2 linked regions of the Homo sapiens genome follow. The protein of the gene in region 1 purifies or fractionates together with the protein of each later gene. This does not show direct contact. Each region holds a gene or a part of one and is shown on either strand. Other genes may lie near its edges.

Region 1 (3,818 bases):
GTGTAATGGCATTAAGCTTTGATATTCCACATTGGCTTAATACTCTTTGGAGTGCTGACCGTATCTAGCTTTGTCATATGCAGTTTGATTACAGTGAACTAGGTGGCTATCTGTGAATGACCCCAGGTAAATATATCCCAGAAGGTGACAAAAAAAAAGAGGATAAAATGTAAGCAGTATTTTTTTTTTTTTTTTGAGACAGGGTTTTGGTCTGTCACCCAGGCTGGAGTGCAGTGGCACGATCTCAGCTCACCTCAACCTCCGCCTACCGGGCTCAAGTGATCCTCCCGTCTCAGTCTCCCAAGTAGCTAGGATTACAGGTGCACACTACCATGCCTGGCTAATTTCTGTATTCAGTATTCTTTCTTGGTGGTTGTACATAGGCAAGCACAGTGACAAATAACCCTCCTTTCTTGTAGAGCCGTGGTTCTAAGTGTGGTCCCTGGACTAGCAGCATCAGCATCAACGTCACCTGGAAACTTGGCAGAAATGCCAACTCTCAGGCCCCACCTGACTTTCCAAATCAGAAACTCTGGGGGTGGGGTCCAGCAACCCGAATTTCAACAAGACCCCCAGGTGATTCTGATGCACATTCAAGTTAAGGAACCAGTGTTCTAGAGAGGCCAGATAAGTACATGAAGCCCGGACTGGGGTTTCTCAATATCAGCACTATTGACATTTGGGGCTCAATAATCCTTTGGTGTGGGGCATAACAGGATACTGAGATGCATCCCTACCCTCTACCTAGATGCCAGTATTAGTTACATACAGTATTAGTCCGTTTTCACACTGCTGATAAACACATGCCAGAAACTAGGTAATTATAAACAAAATGAGATTCAATGGACTCACAGTTCCATGTGGCTAGGGAAGCCTCACAATCATGGTGGAAGGCAGAAGACATGTCTTACATGGTAGCAGACAAGAGAGAAATAGGAACCAAGCCAAAGGGGTTTTCCCTTGTAAAACCATCAGATCTCCTGAGACTTACTCACTGCCACGAGAACAGTATGGGGGAAACTGCCCTCATGATTCAATTATTTCCCACTGGGTCCCTCCCACAACACATGGGAATTATGGGAGCTACAATTCAAGATAAGATTTGGGTGGGGACACAGCCAAACCATATCACCTCCCCCACATCATGACAACCAAAAATGTCTCCAGATATTACCAAATGTTCCCTGGGTGGGAAAACCACCCCTGGCCCAGAACCACTGGCCTAGATTTTACAAAAGTGGATACTAACTTCAGGAAAACCTTCATACCTTTCACTTTTCTTCTCAAAATGCTCTCAGCTAGTTCTCACTGCTTTTAGCGTTTGTAAAATGAATTCACTTCAGCTGGACCCTACTTTAAATGTAAAAAGCTACTGGCTCATGCCTGTAATCCCAGTACTTTGGGAGGCCGAGGCGGGTGGATCACGAGGTTTGGAGTTCAAGACCAGCCTGGCCAAGACGGTGAAACCCTGTCTCTACTAAAAATACAAAAGTTAGCTGGGTGTGGTGGCGGGTGCCTGTAATCCCAGCTACTCGGGAGGCTGAAGCAGGAGAATCGCTTGAACCTGGGAGGCAGAGGTTGCAGTGAGCCAAGATCATGCCACTGTGATGCATGCAGTAAATAAAGATTACAAACAGTCTCATTTGTTCAGGCCAAATTTTAGCACCAAACGAGTTTTCAGGTCCAATTTACACACACACATACACACTTCTGACGTTTAGAATGCACTAAATTTTGGAACTGCTGATAAGAGAAGGTGACTGTACCTACCTTATAGGGAGGAAGTGTGAGGATTGGATCCAATAACACATAAGGTCCAATTCTGTACTCGTAGAGAAAAGGGACTTTCAACAGGTTAGCTATTGTTATTTCTAAATTACAAATTCCGATCATATCATTTGCTTGTTTTGAACTCTTTGATGGTTCTACACTGCCTGCAAAATAAGGTCCAAATTCCTTATTTCTTTCTTTTTTTTTTTTTTGAGACAAAGTTTTGTTCTTGTTGCCCAGGCTGGAGTGCAGTGGCGTGATCTCAGCTCACTGCAACCTCCGCCTCCCAGGTTCAAGTGATTCTCCTGTCTCAGCCTCCCAAGTAGCTGGGACCACAGGTGTGTGCCACCATGCCCAGCTAATTTTTGTGGGTTTTTTTGTTTTTGTTTTTTGAGACAGAGTTTCACTCTTGTTGCACAGGCTGGAGGGCAATGGCATGATCTCGGCTCACTTCAACCTCTGCTTCCTGGGTTCAAGTGATTCTCCTGCCTCAGCCTCCCAAGTAGCTGGGATTACAGGCATGTGCCACCACGCCCAGCTAATTTTGTATTTTTAGTAGAGATGGGGTTTCTCCATGTTGGTCAGGCTGGTCTCAAACTCCTGACCTCAGGTGATCCACCCGCCTCGGCCTCCCAAAGTGCTGGAATTACAAGTGTGAGCCACTGCACCCAGCCAATTTTTGTATTTATAGTAGAGATGGGGTTTCACCATGTTGGCCAGGCTGTTCTTGAACTCCTAACCTCAGGTGATCTGCCTGCCTTGGCCTCCCAAAGTGCTGGGATTACAGTCGTGAGCCACCGCACTTGGCCCCCAAAAACTTTTTTTTTTTAATTTAAAAAACAAAACAAAACCGGACACTGGGTCCTTCTAGCTCTCAGTCTTCTCTGTTGCTATTGTCACTGCCCACCTTTTGCTCTGGTCACTTAGAAATAGCTATGGTTCTTTCCCTCTTACAATTCCCTCCTGTCCTTTCCTCCTTCCTCTGCCTGGGATGAGGGTGCATCCCTCCTTCCTTTCTAGATGCCACTCCTCTATCCATGAAGACCAGCTCAACGACCTTCTCTAGGAGGCTGTCCCCAAACCCCGGCCCCAGCCCAAAGAGCCTCCTCTTCCTGTGTCTTCCCAGCACTGGATGCTGAATACATAGGGGCCATCTCTTCACTAGACTGTTCAGCCCTTGGGAAAGAGCAACTTAGCTGTCAGCTGTCTCTCCCCCACAGGTCTAGCATGGGCCCCACACACGTGCTGGGATTACAGGCGTGAGCCACCTTGCCTGGCCAAGGTAGTGTGGCTTTTGACCCCTGTTGTGTCCTCAGGGCCTGACACTCAATAAAAAAGCTTTTTCTAAATGAATGAGTAAATGAGTGAAGAACGTGACACGTATTTATGACAATGTGAAAACAAACCACCATGGCTAACACCAAGAAAAAACCCACGCCCATGTGCTTTCATTACATCTCATGAAGTGTAGCACCTACTAAAAAGGTTGTTCTCCCTTCAAGGAAGTTGCAAGAGCCTGAACACAACAGAAACCTCAAACGCCAACCCCATCCTGGTCCAGTCATCTACCTGGGCTCTGCAATAACAGTGGTGCACGAGTGAAAAAGTGAGCAGATGCAAGCTCCCCCAGAACGTTTCAGTCCCAGAGCAGCTTAGTAATCACTTTCCAAAAACATTTATCAGCACTGCTCCTGACCAGCAATCTCAAATATTTAGCAACTTACCCAAAACGCATGATTCATGAATAAAATATTTGACCGAATAAAGGCTGCTAACTTTTTTTTTTTTTTGATACGGAGTCTGGCTCTATCGCCCAGGCTGGAGTGCAGTGGCACAATCTTGGCTCACTGCAAGCTCTGCCTCCCAGGTTCACGCCATTCTCCTGCCTCAGCTTCCCGAGTAGCTGGGACTACAGGCGCCTGCCACCACACCTGGCTAATTTTTGAATTTTTAGTAGAGACTGGGTTTCGCCGTGTTAGCCAGGATGGTCTCGACCTCCTGACCTTGTTATCCACCCGCCTCGGCCTCCCAAAGTGCTGGGATTACAG
Region 2 (3,818 bases), on another chromosome or scaffold:
AAAATGAGGATTTCCAATTGGTAGAAAGTAATGTATACATGTGTGTCCAAATTCTTTTGTGCTGAAACTTAAATAAATGTTGATGAGCTTTCACTGGTGAATGTTCTAGAGGATTGCAGGAAGGCTGGTTGTTGAAGAGCCACACACTTTCTACCTGTACGTGTGTATTTACACATGGCCACGTGCATTTTACTACCCTCATGTATATAGTCAAATAAATACATGTGCATGTGTACACACATTCTTTCATATCACTTCTTGTCTGATTTGGCACCTTCCAAAACTCATTTTGAGGTGCCAGAATAAGTTTTATTTTGGCTTTTAGATGACAGCCTCCAGAGGAATGGCATCCACAATTACTCTTCGTCTCTGGGGGCAGCAAAATGTCCACAGCACTTGGGAACAGTCGGGTCAGTTGGAGTGGCATGCCCCCAGGAAGACAGAAACCTTCTTGTACAGTTGTCTGTTTTTATTATCATAGACAGGTGGTTGATAGCTGTTTTATTTCTCCCAAATATGGCTTTCGTTTTGGAGGAAAAACTTGGAATAAGTAGTGACTTACTTCATAGATGCTCTGCCCTTCTCCCCGACCCCACCAGTGGAGGGTGACATTGCTCCTTCAGCTCCCCACTTCTCAGCTCTGGGACATCGGTGAGTTCCCCAGGAAGGATGCGGACGAGGACAACCATGTACCTGCCCTAAGTGGGGAGACCAGGCGTGTGTACAGATAAACTTAATAGAGAGGCAAAAATGAAGCATGTCAGAAACACAGAAGTGCGGAGATTGTTCAGACCTCTCTTGGGTGATTACAGTGGACTCCTTATTGATCTTTTAGCTAATAAAATGAATGGAAAAATATTTCATAAGTGTACAATATGCAGTAGGAAAATAGAGTACTGTTTACTTAAAAGTCTGAAAAACACTGCTGTACTGCTTCCGTGCAATCACAACTGGGGTTTAGACACCCACTATCTTATCTTGTCTATTCCAAAAGGAGTCTAACATTTGTTTCTGACTCCACAGCCAGCAGTCTTTCTAGCACAACTTGTGATCCTCCCTGGATTAGACTCTTTCGGCTGTGGGAGAAGATTCCCACCTCTGTGTGTGCCTTCGAAGGCCTTTAGGATCTGGGCCCGCAGCCCCGTCTGTCACTGGCTGCCCCTGGTTGCCACTGATCCCTACCACCAGCCACACTGTACCATATGCTGCTTTGGCTTTTGGAATTTGAACAAAATCTAGCTTAACTCAGACATGCCCTCTAGGACTATATTGCTGTCATCATTTAAGGAATCAGAACTGTAGTGAAGAATACTTTGTAAATCAGCTTTACATACAGTTTTCAAAATAATCATGTATACAAACATATATAAGGTGTATTTGTCATTCACCATTCATTGAAGTGTTTATTACATGTTCTGTTTTGTCCCTCCCAGGGAAGAATCAACCAAAGTCCTGTCAGCCTTCCCCAGGAAGGCTTTCTATAGAGGACATGTGTGTTAGTTATATGTTGCTATGGAACAAGTTATCTCAAAATTTAGCAGCTTAAAACAACAAACACATTATTGTACACAGTATCTGAGGATCAGGAATCCAGGTACAGCTTAGCTGGGGTTCTGAGGTTGCAGTCAAGCTGTTGGCTGGGGCTGTGGTCATCTGAGGCTTGCCTGGGAGGGCCCTGCCTCTAAGCTTGCTCATGTGGTTGCTGGCAGGTTCATTTCCTCTTGGCTGTTGGCATGAGGCCTCAGTGCCTCACCACGTGGACCTCACCGTCAGCTGCCTGAGTATCCTCACAGCATAGCACTTCTCTTCCCCCAGAGTGAGTGATTCGAGAGAGGGGATCCAAGACAGAGATCAAGCTTTATATTTATATACAACCAGAAAATAAGTGGCACCCAAATACCTCAGGCTTAAAAAAAGTGAGACAGCAAGCATGGGAGCCTTTGTTGATAATAATGGCCTCTTTTTTCCATTTTGAGCCATATGAGATTCCCTACGTGCTGGGGGGGAGATAACTGCTCTAGGTAGATGTTTGTGTATTTCATGATCTGGTCCATAAGCGTTGTTGGAAAAAAGTGAAAATTAAAAGGAAACAAGTCTTGGCTAAAGGGGAAAAAAAAGTAAGTACAATTGCATCCTTTAGATCTCAGATTCTCTTTCTCATGACTTTATTCCAATTTATGTCCGTTACTTCCTTGAACATCCCACTGGTGACAGGCATAGCTGCCAGCTTCCAAGAGTCCTAATGATTCCCAGCTCCTGGGACTCACCCTTGTGCAGTCCCCTCCCACACAGTACCAGCGGTGGTCTGTGGGATGCTGTCACTTTTTGAAATCCAGTAAAAAGGTTTCTGTCTTTTTTACCTCATTGGTGAGTGATTGGGGAGTGGGACCCATGGGCCCTTTGATTAATGTGACTCTGATGTCCCAGTGAAAGTCTTTGTCATTCTCAGGCCGACTGCAGCAGTGGCCCAGGGCAAAGAGTGTGCGTCATCGATGAGATTGGGAAGATGGAGCTCTTCAGTCAGCTTTTCATTCAAGCTGTTCGTCAGACGCTGTCTACCCCAGGGACTATAATCCTTGGCACAATCCCAGTTCCTAAAGGAAAGCCACTGGCTCTTGTAGAAGAAATCAGAAACAGAAAGGATGTGAAGGTGTTTAATGTGAGTACAGCCAGTCCTCCATAATCAGTGGAAATGGAGCAGATGATCTAAAATAGCAGATGGCTCTAAAATATCTCTTTGGTTTTGAGTTAACATTTTTTCCCTTCCATGCTGAAATGTAGGTGAGTCTAATTTTCTAGAAATGTATAGAACTTAAATTATACCTCTACTTGATGAAAAAACAAACTCGCTTATGGGGGGGCCTCCTGACGGTCCCAGTTGTTCTGGCTGCTTTTTTCTTCCATCTCCTCACCAGACACTAGGACCTCTCTGGCATCAGAATTGCCTGAGCTAAGGTGCTTGTTCTAAGCTTATCTCTTCTCAGATTGAAAGGCGCCAGGTTGGGATACAGAGGCAAATATTTTTTGTTTTGTTTTAAAGATTTCCCTTTTAAAGCTGACCCACTTGTGCTTGTGGGGAGAAGAGGCTGTGGATGTGTTGGGAGACACAGCTTCCAGGTGCTGAAGAGCAGCACCGTCCAGTTGAACTTCCCAGTAGTGAGGGAAATGTGCTCTCTGCATTGCTCAGAACAGTAGCGACTAGCCACATCTCGCTATTTATGTTTAATAAATTTAATCATATTTAAATTGAATTATTTATTTAATCACATAAATAATCAAATTTAAATTGAATTAAACATTTGGATTCTCAGTCACACTGGCCACATCTGAGGTGCTCTGTGGTCTCGTGTGGCTGCTACATTCACTAGTGCATCTGTAGGATGTGCCACTCAGTGTGAGGCTTGCAGAATGGCAGCATGGGCATCACCTGGGAGTGGGCCTTGCCCTGGTCCAAGGAGTCAAACTCTGGGGGATGGCCCCATGATCTGTTCTGGCAAGTTCTCATGTGGTTTTTAGGTCCCCCGCACTTTGAGAAGCACTGCTGTAGACCACATGTGAGAGATGAGGGGCTAGGGCTTGTTGACCAGTGGCAGCGTCTGAGCCAGTCGGAAGGGACTCATGGCATTGCTGGCACTTTGTCTAAATTCTTGCCTTTCTTTCCCTGTTGTCCCTCTGTTTTCCTCTCAGTCAGATATTGCTTCTCCCCAACCCCTACCCTTAGTTTCTTTGAGTCAGTGGTAGCTGTGCTCTTGGCTGAGCTCTGCTCACACACCTCACTCCCCACCCCCAGTTTAAAAGCTCCCTGGCCCTGCAAGTGC

The links.
Region 2: the proteins of WDFY1 (region 1) and NTPCR fractionate together in Homo sapiens (co-fractionation; one large-scale study listed by BioGRID). This does not show direct contact.

What each region holds. Positions count from the first base shown.
Region 1 is NC_000002.12:223,938,678-223,942,495, forward strand, and holds part of WDFY1 (WD repeat and FYVE domain-containing protein 1), read right to left. Parts: intron 1-3,818. UniProt on the Homo sapiens protein: Positively regulates TLR3- and TLR4-mediated signaling pathways by bridging the interaction between TLR3 or TLR4 and TICAM1.
Region 2 is NC_000001.11:232,967,460-232,971,277, forward strand, and holds part of NTPCR (cancer-related nucleoside-triphosphatase), read left to right. Parts: intron 1-2,449; coding exon 2,450-2,659; intron 2,660-3,818. UniProt on the Homo sapiens protein: Has nucleotide phosphatase activity towards ATP, GTP, CTP, TTP and UTP. Hydrolyzes nucleoside diphosphates with lower efficiency.